4 separate regions of the Homo sapiens genome follow, and regions 1, 2 and 4 are each linked to region 3. The links come from fine-mapping of genetic effects on gene expression. A gene starts in region 3. Each other region holds a variant in brackets. All regions are shown on one strand. Distances are from middle to middle.

Region 1 (5,844 bases), 81 kb before region 3:
TTATAAATGGGAAATACTTTGATTTTTTTTAAAAAATGCCTTAAATTAGTGATAACTTCAATTATATGTGAAATAGGAAAGAACCATTTTTATTTTGAGATAAGGTTTTCAGAAAAAAATCAAACTCTCATTTCTTTCAATTAAGTCTACTGACATATATTACACATAATGAAGATTACTGAAAATCTAATAGTACATTTGACAATAACATTTAATTTGGATAAAATGGCTAAAGAAAACAGTTTTCTAAAATACAGATAAAATCTTTAAAAATCTCTAATCTATTAGCACCTCCTAGTGGAAAGTTTAAAGGATACAATTCCAACCAATCGGAATTCAGAATAGTTATCACATTTAAAGCTGCTAAACCAATGGCAGTGTGAATCCTTGTGATATGTAAACATGCCTAAAAAAACACACGAATAATGTTATTATTAACATGATTGACTTAAAAAAATCAAAGTGGTAAACATGTACATGACATCTCATCTATTAGAAGCTAATCAATTCAACAATAATTCTGTTACAAACCATCTTTCAAGTTAAAAATTTTGGATTATTTATGGGACTATATATTTGCAAATCTCAGCAAATATAAATATATATATTAAATATATATGGAGAACATTTTATTTTCCTGAACCAAGGGTAGAAACAGGGTAAAAAGATAGAAACTAAATGAATCAGATAACTTTATAAAAAGTATAGTTTCATAGATTATAAATTATGATCAAAATTAATTTTGAGGATATCTGGAGACTTCAATTTATCACTGTCATCCCTATTTCCCATCACATACACATATAGAAAAGAAAACTAAAGAATAAGGAAAACACTGAAAATTCTCCTTTGAAAAGTTTAACAGATAGTAAGGATTATACAGGTAGTTTCTGTAAAATAAAAAATTTCAAAGGCTTATTTTTTCTTAAAAAATTAATTCATGAATTCTTATTTATTAAAATGACCCATTAATGAAAGAGGCTTTAAATGTTACTATAGAGCAAACTATAGTTTTGTGTTTTAATTTCAAATGTTTATTTCAATGACAAATTAAATTTTCATGCATTTGACTTATTCAGAAAAGATATGGATGTTTCCTCATAAATGTTTACTTTTAATCTTGATACATTTTGTGTAGGATTCCCAGTAAGAGAATCAACTGATCAACAATTCGGTCAAACAAGTTTTTAAAATGTAAATAACAGTCCTTAAACAATTATTCAACATTTACGATGGACAAAAAGTCTGTAAAATCACAGAATAGGTTAAAAATAAGGGTGACTACTTCACTCTAACAATTATGAAGAAACACAGTTTATAAAAATTAGATTACATACTTACCATAATCTGGATGAAAAATTTGGCGAATTAGAAGAAGGAACCATTCTTTAGTCAAACCACCCATATCCAAACCAGCTTCCCCTACAAATGTAACTTTTAACTTCTTTTTCAAATCGGCTCTTTTCCGGGTTAGCTATTTGAAGATATTATACAGTAGAGGAGAACAAAGAGCAGTGAAAAGAGAATTAACATTTTTAATTCTGGGAAATGTGTTAGGCAGTCTTTAACTTATTTGCAATGCTACAAAACTCCATCCCTCCATTTATCCAATAAATCTGCCAGACACTGTGTGAGCTAGGTGTTTACTATGTCTTATAGATCAGGAAACAGAATTAGAGAGGTCAGGTACTTCACCCAAAGTACTACCTCCTGGTATCTACTGCCTTCAAATTTTTAATTTAGCACAATATAATTCATTTCTTTTTTTAAAAAAAACTCCCCTTCAATGCTAAACTTTAAAAAATCACATAGCTAGGGCTGGGTGTGGTAGCATGAGCTGGTAATCCCAACTATTTGGGAGGCTGAGGTAGGAGTATGGCTTGAGACCCTGAGACCAGGAGTTTGAGGCGGCAGTGAGCTTTGATTGTACCACTACACTCCAGCCCAGGTGACAAAATAAAACTTGTCACAAAAATAAATAAATAAATAAATCACATAGCGGAATCAGCCATTATCTTCTAATAACCATATTAAGATCTAGCTGAAGCATTTTTTATGATAATACATGAAAATGCAATCAAAGTATGTTAGAACCTGTATAGACCCAATATACCCTGTAGGTCAGACCTCTAATTTTATAGATGTGTAGTCTGAGACCTGGAGAAGTTAAATGACTTGTTACACACATAACCAGGAACAAAGGTGGGTCTGGAATCTAGGTTATATACTAAGAAACATGAATTACTCATTTAAGTGTTCTACATCAAATCCTTTTCTAGGGAATTAACAAACTATTAATAAACATACAAACATGAATATAAGACAATTATGAATACAGATCTGATTTTAACTATGGTATCAAACTTTACAGAAGCTTGGTATGCAACAAGATCTTCAAAAGAATTTAAGGAAGCACACTTATTGGCATACAGAAATAAAAAAGTTTACTATGATTTTTATAATAATCATATTATAGAATTTTAAGCTTTAATTAATATCATTTTGGAATAAATTATACCTCATCAAGTGAATCGCTAACCAGATGTGTCCGTCTTACTTTCATATTTAGAAATAATATATTCATATCAGGTCTCTGTCTTCGAGATACTTTATCCACCAGACTTTGCTGATTAAATAAGAAAGTAAACAGTTTTGCTTTTACTTAGACTATAATTTCATTTAAAACATTTAAACACTTTAGTAAAAATAACAATTATTATCTATGCCATTTCTTATATAAACAATTTTATAAAAATCAATTATACACATTTTGATTTGTGAAAATGGCTTATTATTATTTCATTTTGTAACAATGATAACCAAAGGGGATCCAAAGTGGAGGACCAAAAATAATTCACCTTCTGTAATAAAAAATGTTGCATCACAGTTTCC[G/A]TATGTCTCATCTCTTTTTTTTTTTTTTTTTTTTTTTTTTTTTGAGACGGAGTCTCACTCTTTCGCCCAAGCTGGACTGCAGTGGCGCTATCCCGGCTCACTGCAAGCTCCGCCTCTTGGGTTCATGCCATTCTCCTGCCTCAGCCTCCCGAGTAGCTGGGACTACAGGCGCCCACCACCACGCCCGGCTAATTTTTTGTATTTTTAGTAGAGACGGGGTTTCACCGTGTTAGCCAGGATGGTCTCGATCTCCTGACCTCGTGATCCGCCCGCCTCGGCCTCCCAAAGTGCTGGGATTACAGGCGTGAGCCACCGCGCCCGGCCATGTCTCATCTCTTAAATAGCAAAGTTTTCTGTTTAATAAATACAAATATAAAATGGGAACATTCAAAACAAGGTATATATTCCTGATGATAAACCTGGACTTAGGATTTTTTAGATATTGAATTTTCTTTAAAGGTACAATTAGTCTACTTTACAAAAGTGACTTGTCAACATGTATCAAAGACCATCACAATATTCATATCCTTTATCCCAATAATCCTTCCACTGAGAATTCTTAGAACATATTTTATACAGTACAATGTTTATCACAGCATTATCTATAAAAACAAAACTTTAGAAATATCTTAAGTACATATACAACTAATGAAAAAAAGGATGGTCATAAAAACTATGTAAATAGTACAAGGAAGGTACACTGAAGAAAGTAGGAAATAAAATTGTGTTTACAGTACTATTTCAACTCTGTTGTCTTTTAAAGATAATATAGAACAAATATCAAAAGAAAATTTACTAAAATGTTAATGGCTTTGCTTGGGGGATAGAGATATGAGTGACTCAAAATTCTTTTGTCACCGTTTTTCAAAATATAAGCACTGAATAGGTAAAAAACAATATATTTAAAAATATCTATAAGGAATATGTCATTTGTCATATAAAATCCACAGGCTTATATATTTATCTAAATAGTCTTTATTAGACTATATCTTTTTTTGGTAACAATGAAAACTATTGTGCAGATTAAAGATAAACATTTCAGACATTTTAAATACATGCAGCAATTTGCTTTAATAGATAAAATTTTAGTATCACAAATCTACAATTTAAGGCTACTTACAATTTTGAAGATTACTATAATAAAACACTAATTTGGAGCTTTCTCCATTTCTCCTATATACAACGCTAAATGCTATTAACAGCCTTTTATTTCTGTGTCCTCACTTATCAAGGAAGTCTGCATTCCTAGCATAGTGTCCTGTGTTACAGACCGTTTTTTCCTACCTTTTCCTATCTTCTGTTCCCAGTCTAGCTCTTGGGCAGCTGTCACATTGGAAATAACTAATAAACAAATTTATGCTAGGATGCTAATGGCAAACAAGATTAGTAGCTACTCCTCCCATCAGGAATTCATATTTACTGGAAAATGCTCCAAATGAAAAAATAACCCAACAATGATACAATTCTTGACACTGTGACTGAGGAACTTATTTTAGGTTAGGAAACCAATTTTGTATATTTAGATTGTACCATATAAGCTCTTGCTTACACTGACTATTTGTAAGATTGTCCTTGTGTCAAAATAGTCATCAGTCATTAATTCCAAGTGATATGGCAATTTATGAGATAAAATGTTGGGAAACACCCATAAAAAACTGATAATGCCACTTAGCTCTCAATGTCAAGTGTCTACTCATTCGTTTGCATGCTCTGTAGAAAACTTAGCCTGTCACAGAGTCTACACCTGCCATTCTCCTTCTTTAAAGTAGAAGAAAAATTCCACAAAAAGATATTTGATATCCTGTGAGTGACACAGAAAAAACTGTTTAGTCTTGCTAGTTTAACACAAACTAGCTCATTCTGTTACGTACAAAAGCACTGTAGATTTTCTTACAAATATAAAAAAATCATAGACCAAGGTGAAAAAATACTAAAAAGGCACATGACATTGTACGAGTACAACTAACAGAAAATGTCAGAATGAGTAGCTATACAGCTAATCATTGAGCCAATATCTACCCAAGATCAAGTAACAATTCTGGTGCTGAATATACCTGTTTAAACTCATTCTTCAGGGGGGTAGTGTGGCTTTGGAATTCCCTTGATGGGCATAGGCAATAAAATTTCTTCTAATATTCCCATATTCAGTATAAGATGACTTTGGGATGTCACCAGTTACTCAAATCTTTTGTCCTTCTCTGTGATAGAAAGAAATACTCACCTTCTGGGAACTGAATTACTGAAGAATAAACATTCTTATTTTTTATAGCATTTTGAAGTATTACAATTTATGCTTTAGGATTCTTTTTATACTCTTGAACAAGATGGAAATCATTTCTTTTTACTCTATATTCCTTTTTCAATTAAGAAGACCACAGCCAAGCTTCCCTCTTTTAAAATTGTGAGCAATCATGTAACACAAGCAGATGTTTGAAATACATAAGCACTTAAACAAATAGTTTAGAGCTCTAACAGAAAAACCTCACTGAATCTGATATTTATTAGATAAAGTACATTACTGTGCTGAGCTGAAACACAAGGGATAGGAAGTGGTAAGGACAGACTGAGAGATAACTTCATACTGCTCTACAATTTGCCTAAACTCAGTCTGCTTGCTATCCCCAGCCTCTTTGGGTCTCCATGCATTTTGGTTTCCTAAGAACCAATAAAACATCTTTCACCTTCTTTGGGCATATTTCTCAGTTCTCCAAGACACACTTTTTGTTACATTTTCTAATTTTTCGGTTGTTTCTGATTTTCATAAAACCTAGAAAATGTTTCAGTAGTTTGAGTGGTTTGCCTAATGACACTCTGCCTCACCGCAGTTCTCAATGCTCTGCTGGTTATCTAAGGTTGGTGGTATGGTATCTGCAAAACGAGGTCCAACAAGCTCTCAGTAATTTGAATCTGTGAGAAGCATTTACTCTTCCTACTATATTTATAATATAATGA
Region 2 (5,844 bases), 94 kb before region 3:
ATTGATTATTGCCACAATTTCAGATCCTGTTATTGGTCTATTCAGAGATTCAACTTCTTCCTGGTTTAGTCTTGGGAGAGTGTATGTATCAAGGAATTTATCCATTTCTTCTAGATTTTCTAGTTTATTTGCGTAGAGGTGTTTGTAGTATTCTCTGATGGTAGTTTGTATTTCTGTGGGATCAGTGGTGATATCCCCTTTATCATTTTTTATTGCATCTATTTGATTCTTCTCTCTTTTTTTCTTTATTAGTCTTGCTAGCGGTCTATCAATTTTGTTGATCCTTTCAAAAAACCAGCTCCTGGATTCATTAGTTTATTGAAGGGTTTTCTGTGTCTCTATTTCCTTCAGTTCTGCTCTGATTTTAGTTATTTCTTGCCTTCTGCTAGCTTTTGAATGTGTTTGCTCTTGCTTTTCTAGTTCTTTTAATTGTGATGTTAGGGTGTCAATTTTGGATCTTTCCTGCTTTCTCTTGTGGGCATTTAGTGCTATAAATTTCCCTCTACACACTGCTTTGAATGTGTCCCAGAGATTCTGGTATGTTGTATCTTTGTTCTCGTTGGTTTCAAAGAACATCTTTATTTCTGCCTTCATTTCGTTATGTACCCAGTAGTCATTCAGGAGCAGGTTGTTCAGTTTCCATGTAGTTGAGTGGCTTTGAGTGAGATTCTTAATCCTGAGTTCTAGTTTGATTGCACTGTGGTCTGAGAGATAGTTTGTTATAGTGTCTGTTCTTTTACATTTGCTGAGGAGAGCTTTACTTCCAAGTATGTGGTCAATTTTGGAATAGGTGTGGTGTGGTGCTGAAAAAAATGTATATTCTGTTGATTTGGGGTGGAGAGTTCTGTAGATGTCTATTAGGTCTGCTTGGTGTGGAGCTGAGTTCAATTCCTGGGTATCCTTGTTGACTTTCTGTCTCGTTGATCTGTCTAATGTTGACAGTGGGGTGTTAAAGTCTCCCATTATTAATGTGTGGGAGTCTAAGTCTCTTTGTAGGTCACTCAGGACTTGCTTTATGAATCTGGGTGCTCCTGTATTGGGTGCATATATATTTAGGATAGTTAGCTCTTCTTGTTGAATTGATCCCTTTACCACTATGTAATGGCCTTCTTTGTCTCTTTTGATCTTTGTTGGTTTAAAGTCTGTTTTATCAGAGACTAGGATTGCAACCCCTGCCTTTTTTTGTTTTCCATTTGCTTGGTAGATCTTCCTCCATCCCTTTATTTTGAGCCTATGTGTGTCCCTGCATGTGAGATGGGTTTCCTGAATACAGCACACTGATGGGTCTTGACTCTTTATCCAATTTGCCAGTCTGTGTCTTTTAATTGGAGCATTTAGTCCATTTACATTTAAAGTTAATAGTGTTATGTGTGAATTTGATCCTGTCATTATGATGTTAGCTGGTTACTTTGCTCGTTAGTTGATGCAGTTTCTTCCTAGTCTCGATGGTCTTTACATTTTGGCATGATTTTGCAGCGGCTGGTACCGGTTGTTCCTTTCCATGTTTAGTGCTTCCTTCAGGAGCTCTTTTAGGGCAGGCCTGGTGGTGACAAAATCTCTCAGCATTTGCTTGTCTGTAAAGTATTTTATTTCTTCTTCACTTATGAAGCTTAGTTTGGCTGGATATGAAATTCTGGGTTGAAAATTCTTTAAGAATGTTGAATATTGGTCCCCACTCTCTTCTGGCTTGTAGGGTTTCTGCCAAGAGATCCGCTGTTAGTCTGATGGGCTTCTCTTTGAGGGTAAACCGACCTTTCTCTCTGGCTGCCCTTAACATTTTTTCCTTCATTTCAACTTTGGTGAATCTGACAATTATGTGTCTTGGAGTTGCTCTTCTCGAGGAGTATCTTTGTGGTGTTCTCTGTATTTCCTGAATCTGAATGTTGGCCTGCCTTGCTAGATTGGGGAAGTTCTCCTGGATAATATCCTGCAGAGTGTTTTCCAACTTGGTTCCATTCTCCCCGTCACTTTCAGGTACACCAATCAGACGTAGATTTGGTCTTTTCACATAGTCCCATATTTCTTGGAGGCTTTGCTCGTTTCTTTTTATTCTTTTTTCTCTAAACTTTCCTTCTCGCTTCATTTCATTCATTTCATCTTCCATTGCTGATACCCTTTCTTCCAGTTTATCGCATTGGCTCCTGAGGCTTCTGCATTCTTCACGTGGTTCTCGAGCCTTGGTTTTCAGCTCCATCAGCTCCTTTAAGCACTTCTCTGTATTGGTTATTCTAGTTATACATTCTTCTAAATTTTTTTCAAAGTTTTCAACTTCTTTGCCTTTGGTTTGAATGTCCTCCCGTAGCTCAGAGTAATTTGATCATCTGAAGCCTTCTTCTCTCAGCTTGTCAAAGTCATTCTCCGTCCAGCTTTGTTCTGTTGCTGGTGAGGAGCTGCGTTCCTTTGGAGGAGGAGAGGCGCTCTGATTTTTAGAGTTTCCAGTTTTTCTGCTCTGTTTTTTCCCCATCTTTGTGGTTTTATCTACTTTTGGTCTTTGATGATGGTGATGTACAGATGGGTTTTTGGTGTGGATGTCCTTTCTGTTTGTTAGTTTTCCTTCTAACAGACAGGACCCTCAGGTGCAGGTCTGTTGGAGTACCCTGCAGTGTGAGGTGTCAGTGTGCCCCTGCTGGAGGGTGCCTCCCAGTTAGGCTGCTCGGGGGTCAGGTGTCAGGGACCCACTTGAGGCGGCAGTCTGCCTGTTCTCAGATCTCCAGCTGCGTACTAGGAGAACCCCTGCTCTCTTCAAAGCTGTCAGACAGGGACATTTAAGTCTGCAGAGGTTACTGCTGTCTTTTTGTTTGTCTGTGCCCTGCCCCCAGAGGTGGAGCCTACAGAGGCAGGCAGGCCTCCTTGAGCTGTGGTGGGTTCCACCCAGTTCGAGCTTCCTGGCTGCTTCGTTTACCTAAGCAAGCCTGGGCAATGGTGGGCGCCCCTCCCCCAGCCTCGCTGCCGCCTTGCAGTTTGATCTCAGACTGCTGCGCTAGCCATCAGCGAGACTCCGTGGG[G/A]TAGGACCCTCCGAGCCAAGTGCGGGATATAATCTCGTGGTGCACCGTTTTTTAAGCCCGTCGGAAAAGCGCAGTATTCGGGTGGGAGTGACCCGATTTTCCAGGTGCTGTCCGTCACCCCTTTCTTTGATTAGGAAAGGGAACTCCCTGACCCCTTGCGCTTCCCGAGTGAGGCAATGCCTCGCCCTGCTTCGGCTCGCGCACGGTGTGCGCACCCACTGACCTGCGCCCACTGTCTGGCACTCCCTAGTGAGATGAACCCGGTACCTCAGATGGAAATGCAGAAATCACCCATCTTCTGCGTCGCTCAGGCTGGGAGCTGTAGACTGGAGCTGTTCCTATTCGGCCATCTTGGCTCCTCCCTCATTTTTTGACTTTTTAATATAACAATAGCCATTCTGACCGCTGTGAGATGGTATCTCATTGTGGTTTTGATTTGCATTTCTCTAATGATTAGTGATGTTGAGCATTTTTTCATATGCTTATTGGCTGCATGTTGCCTTCTTTTGAAAAGTGTCTGTTCATGTCCTTTGCCCACCTTTTAATGGAATTACCATTCTTATTTAACAAAAATCTAGTGAATGAATATTCAATGGTGGACCTTATAAGATGAATGGAAACTCCTCTTTCAGCTGGAGTGTTGTCCTTGTCTTTTGAGGCATACCATTATTATGTCAAATTGAAATGTTGTATGTCTTTGATAGTCAGCTTTATTTAATATATGTGAGATTCCACTGGGAATCCTAGAGGTTCTAGATTCATGTTGAAGCCATGTTAGCTCACATATTCTTGAAATAATAATAATTATTGGGAAAGTTTAGAAGTAATGTCACCTTTGTATTAAAACAGATTGCTCAGATTACTCTTTTAAAATTGGAAATGTTTTTAATATAAAATAAAATATTCTGAAAAATTAACTTCTGTTATGCAAAAAATCTATAATCTAAAAAAATCCTCTTGAATTTTTTCATTTTAGGACTTTAATTGTAAATTTTGTTTAGAAATTTAATTATATATGTAAATATTTATTTTGTGTTTTAAATATAATCTTGATGATGACATAAATACTATTGAAGAAATAGCTATTGGGCACTTACCATGTGTGATTACTTGGAGCATACAAATATGTATAAGGCATAACCTCTTTCTTGAAGAACTAAATGACTCAGATATAAAGTGCAACATGGTAACTAGCACATAACTTCTACAAGATATTTGAGAAACTCAATACATAATGACTTTTGGCTTTACAGAGGAAGTCAACATTAAACTGTGTCTTTAATAGTCATAGCTGGCACATCACATGTAAAGGGAACAACTTGAAAGCATGGAGGAAGAAAGGCATAAAATATATCTAAGGAACCAGCAAACAGCCTGTTGACTAAAGCATAGAAAGAAATGAAAACTGGTAGATAGCCTGGGGTAGAAGACTAGAGCTTTATTTTACAGTCTCTGGATTCTAGAACTTAAACTGGCAATAAAGTTATTTCCCACGGAAATATGATCTAAATAGTGTTAAAGCACATGAGTTTAATAGGATAAAATAAGCTAGTAATGAAGATAAAAAGTAACTTTACCAAGGTAGAGGCAGTGGAAAAGCAAAGAACAGATTCCAGCTTTAAAATGAAAGGAAGAACTAAGAGCACTTAGGGAATGTTCAATGTATGGGGCAGGAGACAAAAATGATTATAATCAAAGTTATGTCTATTCAAGTTAGCTTTAGAAATTATAAGTTATTTGGGAAAAGGAGTAAGTTGATAAGCATTAATGCATTAACACTGCTAGAAAATAATTTAAATCCATCATCACCATCACTTCATATACAAAAAGCATGAGATTAAAAAAAAAAAGAGGATTAGTATTAGAGGTACTTCTGGTAATAATTATAGTATCCCCCAACCCCCTAGAAAAGAAAGAAAACTCCACAAACAAACCAGATATCCCAACTTAATGATTTTCCTAAAAATAAAAAACACATTTCACATTTAAATAAAAATGAACATTAGACAATCTACTACTACAAAGTAACTAGGTTCTAAAAGAGTCTACAAAGCACTTATATGACCTAGCAAAGTAAAAAGTTGTTAGAAATGAATTATTAGTTAGTATGTCTCAAAAACTAGTAAGAGAACTTTTAATCAAAATCTCTTACATTTCAAGGCCATGTTTACTCTGAAGATTTTTCTATGAAAATAACTTCAAACGGAGTACACATCCTGATTCCAAATGTATTATCATTAGCAGTATTAGCAGTAACCTTTAGATTTAAAATAAAATTAGATCCAGAAATTTACCAGTTAGTAGAAGTTTCATTCTTTGAGATTTTAAAGTTCAAATCAGCCATCCCTCCTACAGGTACTCTGTCACTCCCTGTAGTAAAATGTAGCAACTTCTTTTGAAGATCAAGAGGAAATCCAAGCACAACATCCCAAAAGTATCTAGAGAATACCAAAGGAAATTAACATCAAATGTCTTGACAAAAATCCTATAATAAAGTAATATAAAGGAAGCTCTAAGGAAAGGACTTTCCTTAAGCATACATAATATCCTGAATTTCTGTAAAATTAAGGAATGGTGAGCTTCTATATACGTATTAGACTTTTGACTAACATTATAAAATAATATTTTTATAAAAGTATATAAGTTCAGCAGTGGATAGTACAGGAACCATTTTTCTCCTGCATAACTTTCAAGTCTTATTTTTCAACATAGTGCTATTAAACTGTTATTTACAAGGATAGCATCCATGAAATTCTAGGAGCAAAGTCATTTTTTTAAAAGTAAAATCTCTACACTTTTGTAGAAACTTGCTTATAGAATTTTCTCCCAAAGGGAGTGA
Region 3 (5,844 bases):
TATCCTTTGGATGGACTAAGGACCAAGCATAGATTTTCTACACTTAAGCTTTTCACTGCTATTAGCTCTGAATTCTAGCTTTGAAGTCTCTCTTTGACAAATACACACACACACACACACACACACACATTCTGCCACAGATCCTGTCATAAATTGTTTTTTTTTTTAAAAAATAAATAATCAATGGTACTGACTCTGAAAGACTTTATAAGGCACAAGCAAGGCTGAGGCAGGAGAATGGCTTGAACACGAGAGGCAGAGATTGCAGTGAGCCGAGATCAGGCTACTGCACTTCAGCCTGGCGACAGAGCAAGACTCCGTCTCAAAAAGAAAAAAAAAAAACCCTCAAGTTTTGTATATTTATCCTTATCCTCTTCTATTCCAACTCATACCTTTTCAAAGTTTAATTCAAGATTTAAATTTTTTTCTTGAATATATTCTTCTCTTTGTCTAGTAGTACAAGTCCATAATCCTCTATTTACAATTTCAAAGTCCTATAAATTCTTGAAACTGAAGTGTCTTTGCAACTCATTTGGTGGCAAAAACATGCACCTAATCTGAAATGACATGACGCTACTGACTTTTTCCCTTTAGCATGAACACATAATTTCATTACAGTTATTAAGATGGTTGATTAGAGAGAACTGGCTAGGACCTTACTGTGGGTATTAAATAATATATGATATATGTACCGAATTACCTTTCTAAAATCTGAAAAACTTGAAATCCCAAAGCAGACTGTAGACTTGTATCCACACTTGCAAATTCCAAAACGGCAATTTTTCAGTTATGAGATGAATAGGTTTTTGGGAGAGCGTTTGCTTGAGGACCTAAACCCACTCATTTAACTGTTTCTATAAGTACATACATTTACTGTTTTAAACAACCAACTTAGAAATGAACTGCTGGAATTCTGTGAGTTAAAGACTTCCTATATAAAATCTGAAAACCTAGGGTACCAGCAGCAGGAACCAGGTCTCCAAGCAGCTGGGTGACAAATTCCTTCAAAGCATTTTCTAGGGTAATCCCTAACCCCAGCTCCAATCTACCAATCAATTGTAGCTACGCTTTTAAACGTGTATCATTACTGTTCGCAATTTGCTGCATTGATTTAAAGAGCTTGTTTTAACAATTTCCAGTTATCAGGGCCCTCAGACATTTTTGAAAAACCTACCGAATCCGAAAATTATTCCTAACACCAATACAGTACTTAACGAAGAGTGAGCTATTTTAGTAAGTTCTTAGTCATTTAAGAGGGAGGTTTTAAGAAATGAACCGCAAGTAGGAATAAAGAAAATGTATAATGTTCACTAAACTTTTACTATTTTGTCACACACAGCTGCATGACAAGTCATGATCTTTAAATATATCAAAGCAAACTTTCAAAAAGTACTTAAATATTATGTCAAAATAAAAAATTGCAAAATCCGAGGTTTTTTTTTAAATTGTGCTTCAAATTAACCAGTCACAACCACCAGTAAAAATAGGGAAAGAGGGGGAGGGGGCTGTCCCATGACATCATCTGGCAATATGTAGTTTGAAGCCTGACAGCGCTCTCCAAATAACCCTTACGAAGATACAGCTGGGAAATCATCCCTGTCAAGCTTAGATAACTTGGGTTTAAATAAAAGGTTCAAAAAGCCTCCCCCCACCTGAGTCACATGTCTGTACCATATGAAAAATAAAACCATCACTGATGCATCTACCTCCCACTACACTGACAGCAACGGAAAGGTCACAATTAAGTGGAAACTCGCCGCAGAGCCTGTTTAATCTGAAGGGGGAAGGGAAAGAAAAGCGAAGAAAAGGACAAAAATCTGCGCGCCTCCAAGGCAGGCAGGCAGGCAGGCACCTCCGTGGAAAACCCACTCCCGCCTGCTGACACCTATGCTCATCCAACAGATCATGCCGACTCAAGATGCAGGTCATTCTCTTAGAGAAAGTGGGGGCCCAAGCCCCAGAAAATAACCCAAACATCCAGCGGAACCGACCACCCCCAACATTTCCCGAGGGTGGTAGGTGTACCTCGCGAAGTGTTCGGGGCTGTCCACGAGGCACAACTCTTTTATTTCTGCCCAAGGAAGGGCGGCCTGAGTGCGTCTCCCTGGAGTGCCAGGGCGTGCCCAGGGTAAACGCAGGCCTCCTGACGGCCCTCGCCCGGCCGCCGTCCCTCCCAACTCCCGCCGTCCGGGGCGCCAGACGGCCCCGGCCCACCACCTACCGCGGTCGCGCCGGCGCCCGCCGATACGATGGGCGGCAGCTTCTCGCGCTCTGACTCCTTCCCTTTCCTCTCCTCAGGCGCGGGCGCCGCCACCACCAGCGGAGTGGCGGGCGAGGGTACCCGAACCGCCTCACTCATGTCGGGCCGGGCGGCGGGAGCGCCAGGCGGCGGCGGCGGCCTCAGTGTTGCTGGGGCTGGCGCTGCTGCTGCCGCCGCGGCCGCGAGAGGGCTCTGGGCTGCCGCTTCTAGCCGCCGCTGCCGCCGCCACTCCGCCCCCGCCCGCGCCCGCGCCTTTGCGCGCGAGCCCGAGGCCGCCCCCGCGCGCGCCAGCCCCGCGGACGCGGCTCCCCACAGGTCCCACAGGTTTCTTGCTCTCGCCTCCCCCGCCCGCCCGGGGCTCGCGCGTCGCGGGTCGGGAGCGCCGGCGGTAGTCCCCCTCGTCAACCCCGAGGGCCCGGAGAGAAGGCGCCACGGTCGACGCCCGACCGCCATATTGTTTGCAGAGTGTCGCCCGAGATGACGAGGAGACCCCGCACCCGGGCCGCGCAGGAGAACCTGGACTAAGGACGGGCAGTCGGGGAGACAAGTCGAGCCCTGCAAAGGGTCGGACGGGGATAGAGTGTCCGAGTGGTACCAGTAGGGCAGGACGTAGGCACAGACTACCCTTCACGGACGGCCCTGGCCTGCGGCGCCGAGTCCCGCGGGCAAGCGCCCTCGGGGTCTGGGCTGGTGGCCTTTCGCCTTCTTCCAGGCGCCCACAAAGCTGTCCGCCTTGGGGCTTCTGCCTTCTTATCCTTGCCCGCCCTCCTGAGCCCAGGAGAGGCGGCCCGGAGCTTGCGCAGCCCGGGGAGACAGCCTTCCTGGCTCAGCAACCGACTCTTTTGTACACGCCTGGATGGCTTCAGCCTACACAGGAAAAGCCTGGAGGTGGGGAGGAGTGCGACGTGGTGGGCCCCCCCTTTCCCCTTCCCCCATAGGATTGGACGGCCAGTCCACACTTTCCATTCCTGTTCCTCTCGTCCCTCTTTGACTGCCAAATCCGCCTCTCCCTTCCCGTCCCCACGCGCCTACGTTTTGCTCTCTCCCCGCAACCCTTTGCTGTCTCCTATCCGTCCCTTCCTTGTTCCTTTCCGTTTATGTTAGAGATGTACATACCCAAACTCTGCTGCACAGTCCTCAATCAAATCATTACAAATAGGAGTAAAAACTTGAAAGCCGAAGAAGAGAGCTTTTAATTATGAAATTAAAATACCCCCCACCTCCACCACCAGGACACCTAGACAATTTCCTTTCCTTTCTTGTCGCCCCCTCCTTTTCCTTTTTCTCAGTCTACTGGAGCGGCGGGGACACCTGCTGATCTAGGAGAAAAGAGAGTAAGAATGCGCTGTATCGCCTGTTAAAAGCAAGGAATTTCGATATTCAGCTCTATCAGATTTTTTATCTGTGCCTTCATTATTTTATTGGAGGTTGAGTGAATTTTTAGATCAAGAGTACCTAAGTCCAAATATAAGAACCAAAAATATCTCTGAAACAAACCCAAATATGATTTCGGGGTATCTATTGTTTACATAATTTGGAGTTATTAGTATAACTAAATACTAGTTATGGTGCATCATGAGATAAGGTTGCATGTTTTCAAACCCACAATTTGTAACAAGTAGATCTGAAGCAAACAATGTTGCCTTCTAAATTTTGAATTCTGACTTTCATTTATAGAAAGGCTTTCTACTTTAATATAGTTGCTGTTGCCACCTATTTACTTGTTAATTAACAAAAGGTATAGAATAAGTGCCATATAGTCAGCAAAAAGTATTTCAGTGCTAATAGCCTTGGAGGGAAAATGATGTATGTCGGCATTACTTTGAAGCATCCTCCTCCTTTCTATTAATATTTTTCTAAATTCTTTTTCAGGATTTTCTTTCCTTAAAACTACTGAAATACTCATCCCATAGAGAGGAACATAACATTATTTTCTGCTTTTAGCAGGTCTGTATGCTGATCATGGATACAGGAACAACTCAAATGTTATTTTATAAAATGAAGCCTTTATTTTAGCTGCAATTTCAGATATTCTGTGCTAAGTCTAGGTTGATAGAACAAATACTAGAGGGAAAAGTATCCTCTTTCCTATTGTTTTCAACTAGATTTAGTAATTTGCTATAAAAATGTTTGGATGAGAAACCACTTGGATAACAGGCCTTCTGCTTTCTTTTTTCATGTGTGAGACTAAATAAAAGTGTGTCTGTACATGTAGTCACATTCAATAGAACAAACTGCTTAAATATTGGCAAAACAAGGCAAGTCAAAAATGTTAATTTCTGCTACTGCACCAGAGTAGATAACCCATTTCTTAACAAATTCTCTGATTAATTAGCTTGTGAGTTCCATGTAAAAAATGATAATTTGTTCATGTTTCCTTTGACTTCTTATTAAATAAATGTCCTCAATCCACCACCTCATCCCTCCCTCATACATAGTCCAGGAGGGGGCTGGAGAATGGGAATGGGGCCTGCTGGAAAGCTGTAGAATTATAGCTCTGGGGGAACTCGTGGTGTGCTTGAGAGACACATTCCCAACTGCCATCAGTGTGCTTCTGGAGACCCAGGTGGGAGAAGAGAGTGTTGTAAAGCAGGACATACAGAGAGCTCTGGCCATTCTGTACAGAGGTGTGGAGAAGATGCTTTTTAGCTATGCCAAGTGTCAGACGTGCAACAGTGAGGGTATCCAAGTATAAACTCATTCGCTTTGGAAAAACTAGGAGCGAGGCAGAAGAAGCATTTCATGTTTCTAAGTCCAGATGGAAGACCTGAGCTCATTAATTATACCTATGGGGAATAGGGTTTGGCAGGGTGGGAGTGAGGGTTAGAGAACTCATTATTTCCCTGGAAGAAAAAGAAAGACAAAATTACAAGGTAATGGAAGGTCGAAATTATAGATAACTTCTATTTTAATTATGTATAGTAATACTAATGTAGTGAACAATAGCAAAATAGGTGCACAGGTCATTTTAGAATGGTTTATACCACTAATACCTTAATTTTAGAAGGTATAGCTATGAAATAGTGCAACTTATTTTAATATTTCAACTGAATGTTGTCCTAAAGTAAACTTGGGGAAATTATTTTAGCCATGTTGACCTTGTTAAAAAGATTTTTAGAACTCTTTCTTAGGTATAATGGTTGTGGATTTTTAAAATTACTATTTAAAAAATAACTTGGCTGGGTGTGGTGGCTCATGCCTGTAATCCTAAGACTTTGGGAGGCCAAGGCAGGTGGCTCACTTGAGGTCAGGAGTTTGAAACCAGCCTGGCCAACATGGTGAAACCCTGTCCCTACTAAAAATACCAAAAATAAATAAATAAATAAATAAATAAATAAATAAATAAATAAATAAATAAATTTAGCCAGGTGTGGTGGTGGGCACCTGTAATCCCAGCTACTCGGGAGGCTGAGGCAGGAGAATTGCTTCAACTCGGGAGGCAGAGGTTGCAGTGAGCTGAAATCGTGCCACTGCACTCCAGCCTGGGTGACACATCTCACAACGAAACAAAACAAAACAAAAAAACCTTTTCTTTGTTTAAAAAAAAAAAGATGCTTTGTCATTACAGAAAAACAGAAAATACA
Region 4 (5,844 bases), 200 kb before region 3:
CACTTGGGCTTCTGGGTGACAGAAAGGTCAATCCTATTTAACATGGAAACCAACCTCCTTGGACATTCTAATTGGCACCATGTAATGAACTCCCCTTGCTGATACCACCACCTACAACAATAGGCACCTACACCACACTGCCTTTCTGACTCCTAGCACAGTATCCCAGCCCTTATTTATCTAAATGAACACCATCAAACCAGGGTGGAGACATCCTGCTGTCTTGGGAACAGTGTCAACAATTCCATTATATCACCATCTAGGTTTAGTGTGCTTGAAAACAATGATCAGGCCACACCTATGCCAAAAACTTCCTATCACAGCAACAAAAGATATCGATGCTCCATATCACAAAAGGATACAGTCATAACGATGGGCAGTGGGTGCTTCCGGCTATTTGTCAGTACAGCTTCTCACAGCCCCTCTGTCTCACTCATGCTCTGTCAATGGATTAATAGCTCAGGACAACTGTGTGTCCCATGAGTCAGAGGGGCTGGTGAGTCACATGCTTATGCCAATTCCTCCGGCAGATACTTTATCCCAGCCATTTATAATGCTGACCATTTATAATGCTGACCAGACTCAAAGTAACTAAAACCAGCTGTAACCAGAGACATGCACAGACTCAAGTGTCCAGTTATGTACTCTGTTGGATGATATGACCTTCAAAATTAATCTTTGGGTAAGCCCAGTCTATAAACTGCTTGTTCATATGTCTACTCTGGATTTATGATATACTCTCTTCCTTGTGGTAGCTGACACTCTCTGGCTCTGACTGTTTAGATCATGTGAAATCTGACTTACCATCTAGCCAGGATCTTGAGCTCATTGCTACCAAAGTCCTGACTAACAACTTTAAAAAAATGGAAAGAAACCCCCAAAGGAACTGCCTTGGTGGCAAATAACTGCACAGTTAGAGCTGCTGTGATGGAGACAGAGGTATCTGGAGGACTTTGGCTCCTGGGTGTTATGACAATCTTTGGTCCAGAGGGAATAATATCTTATAACCCTGTATTTATACATGGTATTAAAATGTCAAAGGCGAATTTTCTAGGTCTATTCTGTAATCTGATTCCAGGGCAATATGATCCCTTTGCTCTTCAGCTGACTTCTGTCTTATCATCTATGTCAAAGCTTAAGTGTCACCTTCTCAGAGTGGTCTTCTCTGACTACCCCATCTAAAATAGGTATTCCCAGCCATTCTCCCTCATTCATTATTATTTTTTAAGATTTTATTTATGAATTTAATGTAAATGCCATGAAATATATGCAAAATTCATGAAAGTTATGAACAAAACATTAACACTACTCAAGTTTTATGTGGTTTAATTTCACCAATATCCCCTGGGTTCCATGGGAGGGATTTCAGCATAACATAATTATTTTCAGTTCAACGCAAAAAAAAAAAAAAAGATTGACTGAGCTTCTACTACGTGGTAGGCACTGAATCTACAGAAGTAAGATATATTCCTGCCCTCTCTTTTCTCAAACTACACATAATATGGCCCTTGTTAGCCTTTCTAATATGGATTGAAAATCTATGTGTAGGCCGGGCACGGTGGCTCACGCCTGTAATCCCAGCACTTTGGGAGGCCGAGGCAGGGGGATCACGAGGTCAGGAGATTGAGACCATCCTGGCTAACACGGTGAAACCCCGTCTCTACTAAAAAAAATACAAAAAAAATTAGCCGGGCGCTGTGGCAGGCGCCTGTAGTCGCAGCTACTCAGGAGGCTGAGGCAGGAGAATGGCGTGAACACGGGAAGCGGAGCTTGCAGTGAGCCGAGATCGCGCCACTGCATTCCAGCCTGGGCGACAGAGCGAGACTCCAACTCAAAAAAAAAAAAAAAAAAAAGAAAGAAAGAAAATCTATGTGTAAGTGTAATTCTGTGTTTTTTTTTTTTTTTTTTTTTTTGGCAGAGTCTTGCTCTGTTGCCCAGGCTGGAGTACAGTAGCATGATCACAGCTCACTGCAGCCTCAACCTCTTGGGCTCAAGTGATCCTCCTACCTCAGCTTCCCAGGTAGTTGGAACTATAGGCATGTGCCACCATATTTGGCTAATTTTTAATTTTTTGTAGAGATGGGGTCTCACTACCTCATTCATTATTTCATCAAGTGTTGTTGGGTGCCTGTGAGGTGCCTGGATCCCTCAGGGAACTTACGTTTACTGAGCATTTATTAATGTGACAGGCGCTATGTTAAGAGTTTTGTTTACATTTTCTCATTTCGTCCTATGAGGTATGTACTGTTATCATCACCATTTTACAAATAAGGAAGCTGAGGCACAGAGAGGCGAAGTAACCTGCCCAAGATCACACAGTTAATAAGGGGCAGAGCTGGGATTTGAGATCCAGAAGTGTGATCCTGAGCATGGGCATTTCCTCTCATAGCACCCTGTTCTTTTCCTTTCTCACACATCTCACAATTAGAATTCTATGTAATAGGGTGTGAGTGAGATTTTGTTCTGTTGTCTTGGAATGGCTGCCATTGCCCAAAGGTGACCCAGAAAGTGCTAAGCACTCTGGTTTTCTAAAGAGAGCTCTTAACCAGCCTTCAGCAATGCAGTGGCAGAACTGGCCTTAATACCACCAACCCTGCCCCTGTCCTGGGTCTGTAAGGAGAAGTCTGGGCTGGAATAAGGGGCTCAGAGTTTTCAGCCTGGAGGAGGTACAGAGTTCCTTGTGAGCATATTCCCAGGAGCAGGACCAGGAACAGGGGTTTTCCCTCCTCCAAGCCAAAGGAGAGTTGGGGGTGCTAAGGGGATCACTAATGTCATGTTTACTGGCTAGACATCTGCCTGGGCAGCAGTCCTGCTGTCAGCCCTGTC[C/A]CAGGAGAAGAGAAACATTGGAGAGAGAAGGCAGGGCTGAAATACGGTGTGGCCATGGCACAGGCTCCTTCCCACAGCTTGGCTCAGCAGGATGGTTAGATTTCCCACGCGTCAAAAGAATGCTGAGGAAGGTACTGGGCCTGGGCTGACTTGCTGTGCCCCCCTCTGCCCCCCGAAGATAGCCACCCTCTGGATGAGGGTCTCCAAGCAACAAGAGTTTGTGAGGTGGGCTACAAGTGGCAAGGGCTGGGGCCTGGGGAGGAAGAGCTCAAACACCCCTTCCCCTTCCCACCCCTGCCATGGAGGGAACTACATCCTGATGAGGTGGGTAGAGAGGTGAGAACAGAGACAGAGCAGACCCACCTGGATCTATGCCAAGCCCCAGTGGCAGCAAGTCTTGGCTACTCTGGGAGGGCAGAGGGCTTGGGATCAGATCTGAGATGGAGGTTTAAACTGGTCTTGACTAAACTGAATAGCTGAAAGTGACAGGAAGTAATGGAAACTGTGAGATATTTTAAAGGGGGGGAAAGAGGAGGAGATGATTTGACATAGCAAGTCAAGGATAGTGGAAAAAAATGAAAACTACATTGTGTTTATTCTCTGTGGATTTGAAGCTTCTTGGCAAATTGGTCCATTTATTTAATTGTGTGTGCATTTATGAATCGTCTCTTTTAATCAGACTTTAAGTTCTATGAGAGCAGGACATGTGTGTCTTATTGACTGCTTTACCCACTTTACCTAGTATGGAGTCTGGCAAAATAAATGTTGAAGTGAAAAGTAAAAGACACCACTATAGGCATGGGGAAGCTTAATTGGTTATGAATCCTGGCATTCCAGATGTCTGACTAAACCCCCCGGTAGATGCTCTGGAATCTTAGATGATAAAGAACTTTTAGGAAGAGGACCTCAGGGCAGGAGTGAAGAACACGTGCACTATAGCTATACAGACCTGGGTTCAAGACACTGCACCCCATACTCTACACTCCTGTCACATAACGTAACATTAGAGCTTCACTTTCCTCCTCTGACATGCCTTGATCATGTTTACCCTTCAGGATTCTTGTGGAATTTAAGTGACATTATGCATGTAAAGGCCTCTGGATTAAAGGGAACTCTTGTACACTGTTGGTGAGAATGTAAATTAGTACAGCCATTTTGGAAAGCGGTATGATGGTTCCCGAAAAAATGGAAAATAGAACTACCATATGATCCAGCAATCCCACTTCTGGGTGTACATCCAAATGAATTGAAATCAATACGTTGAAGAGATATCTGCACTCCCATGTGAATTGCAGCATTATTCACAATACCCAAGATATGGAAATAACCTAAGTGACCATCAATAGATGAATGGATAAAAATTTTAGTATATATACACAACAAAATACTATTCATCCTTAAGATAGAAGAAAATTCTGTTATTTGTGATGACAACATGAATTAACCTGGAGGACATCATGCTAAGTGAAATAAGCCAGGCACAGAAAGATAGATCCTATGTGATCTCACTTAGAATGTGAAATCTAAAAACTTCAAACTCATGGAAGTAGAGAGTAGAATGGTAGTTATAAGAGGCTGATAGGTGGGGGCAGATAGGGAATGGGGAAATGTTGGTCAAGGTGTACGAAGTTTCATTTTTAGACAGGAGGAGTCAGTTCTGGGGATCTGTTGCACAGCATGGTGGCTATAGTTAATAATAATATATTGCATATTTCAAAATTGCTAAAAGATAGATTTTAAATGTTCTCATCACAAAGAAATCGTAAGTATGTGAGTTGATGAGCCTGTTAAATTAGCTTGATTTGATCATTCTACAATGTATACATATATCGAAATATCACATTGTACCCCATAAATATGTACAATATTTGATAATTTTGAAAATAGATAATGTGGCTCAAACCATAAGAAATTTTTGGAGTAGCCAACTTGAAACTTACAGCTTTAAGGCTAAGAACTTTGAGAGTGTGGGTGTGGGGTGCCCAATTCTATATATGGGAATGATGAGGAGAAGCTAAAGGACTTTTCAAGTGTGTGATGTAGGAGTCAGGTGGAGATTACATATGGGAAAAGGCTTTGCAAACCATGAAGTGAGGAAAAGTGTTCACACACTTATAGCCAGAACACTGCAAGAGTTAATAATGGTCCTATTGCAGGCTCAGGGGCCTATCGTTTATTTATAGAAATGCCTTGGGGAGTTACAGATGGGGAGGGAAAGCAAAGAATGTGTTTCTGTGCATGCCTGTGTGTGTGTGTGTGTGTGTGTGTGTGTGTGTGTGAGAGAGAGAGAGAGAGAGAGAGACAGAGAGACAGAGAGAGAGAGAGAGAGAGAGAAATGTACAGGTTTAGCTTTTTCTGAGTTTCTATTTAACACACACCCCCTACCTCCTCCCTTCTCCCTTTTCTACCCCCTTATCTCCAGGCTGTCTCAGTGTCACCTCCTCCGGCCAGTTCCTTCTGGACACCTTGTCTGTCCTTGAGCTATCATGTAATCCTTCCGGGTATTGCCTCAGCTAGCGAGAGCCCAGTCCTGGCAGAAGCCACCCTGCAAATAATTCACTGTGAAAGCTGGGCTTGTTCTCTTCAAAGGGTAAAGTGGGCTAACGAGAAGGGACGAGAGCGTCCCCTGCCCCACCTCCACTCCCTCACAAGTTCTCTTTGGAAACTACCCTTCCCCTTCCTGGGATGACCTCTGTCCTTAATGAAATGGGAGAAACAGAATGTCAAGACTTGTTTCCTTTCCAAATAAAAGAGGAACGCGCTGAAGTGCATTTTAAATGCTGTCTGGCAAGAGTGGCGGGTTGGGGGAAGGGAGGAGGCTGACTTGCCTTTCTTTGCTAGATATCTGGGCACTTGGCCCACACGCTCTTTCTCCGTGAGATTTGAAGGGCAATGTGTCATTCTGGGAGAGGTCTGCAGTTTCTCCAAATATAAACTTTGCTGTTCTTAGGGTCATCATGTACAAGGGCAGTTGTGTTCATAGAACATATTAGGATTTAGAGGGATAGATATTAAGTA

Which allele goes with the higher level. Positions count from the first base shown, and alleles are read on the strand shown. Sizes are in standard deviations (SD) of each study's normalised expression. Not every link is listed here.
As copies of A replace C in region 4, the expression in skeletal muscle of the gene that starts at base 2,454 in region 3 goes up (moderate effect, 0.53 SD a copy in GTEx).

What was found. PIP is the estimated chance that this variant, and not a neighbour inherited with it, causes the effect.
Region 1: its variant is fine-mapped to the expression of HECTD2 in whole blood (TOPMed, PIP above 0.99). The same link has a PIP of 0.9 or more in blood mononuclear cells.
Region 2: its variant is fine-mapped to the expression of HECTD2 in blood mononuclear cells (TOPMed, PIP 0.94).
Region 4: its variant is fine-mapped to the expression of HECTD2 in skeletal muscle (GTEx, PIP above 0.99).

The regions. Positions count from the first base shown.
Region 1 is chr10:91,487,982-91,493,825 of GRCh38, reverse strand. It overlaps HECTD2 (HECT domain E3 ubiquitin protein ligase 2), which reads right to left. Exons shown (of 21, transcript NM_182765.6): 12 at 2,519-2,626; 13 at 1,342-1,474; 14 at 318-406. All of the region lies in intron 3 of HECTD2-AS1 (HECTD2 antisense RNA 1), which reads left to right. Among named protein-coding and RNA genes, the nearest start is that of HECTD2, 81 kb to the right of the region's middle. The variant G/A (reference allele first, on the strand shown) is at 2,893.
Region 2 is chr10:91,500,790-91,506,633 of GRCh38, reverse strand. HECTD2 (HECT domain E3 ubiquitin protein ligase 2) reads right to left here. Exons shown (of 21, transcript NM_182765.6): 20 at 5,300-5,443. All of the region lies in intron 3 of HECTD2-AS1 (HECTD2 antisense RNA 1), which reads left to right. Among named protein-coding and RNA genes, the nearest start is that of HECTD2, 93 kb to the right of the region's middle. The variant G/A (reference allele first, on the strand shown) is at 3,006.
Region 3 is chr10:91,406,954-91,412,797 of GRCh38, reverse strand. It overlaps HECTD2 (HECT domain E3 ubiquitin protein ligase 2), which reads right to left and starts at 2,454. Exons shown (of 21, transcript NM_182765.6): 1 at 2,222-2,454. The coding sequence starts at 2,359. The region is part of intron 3 of HECTD2-AS1 (HECTD2 antisense RNA 1); the gene reads left to right. RefSeq lists a silencer at 2,098-2,687 and an enhancer at 2,838-3,047.
Region 4 is chr10:91,608,464-91,614,307 of GRCh38, reverse strand. HECTD2-AS1 (HECTD2 antisense RNA 1) reads left to right here and starts at 2,848. Exons shown (of 5, transcript NR_024467.1): 1 at 2,848-2,957. The variant C/A (reference allele first, on the strand shown) is at 2,827.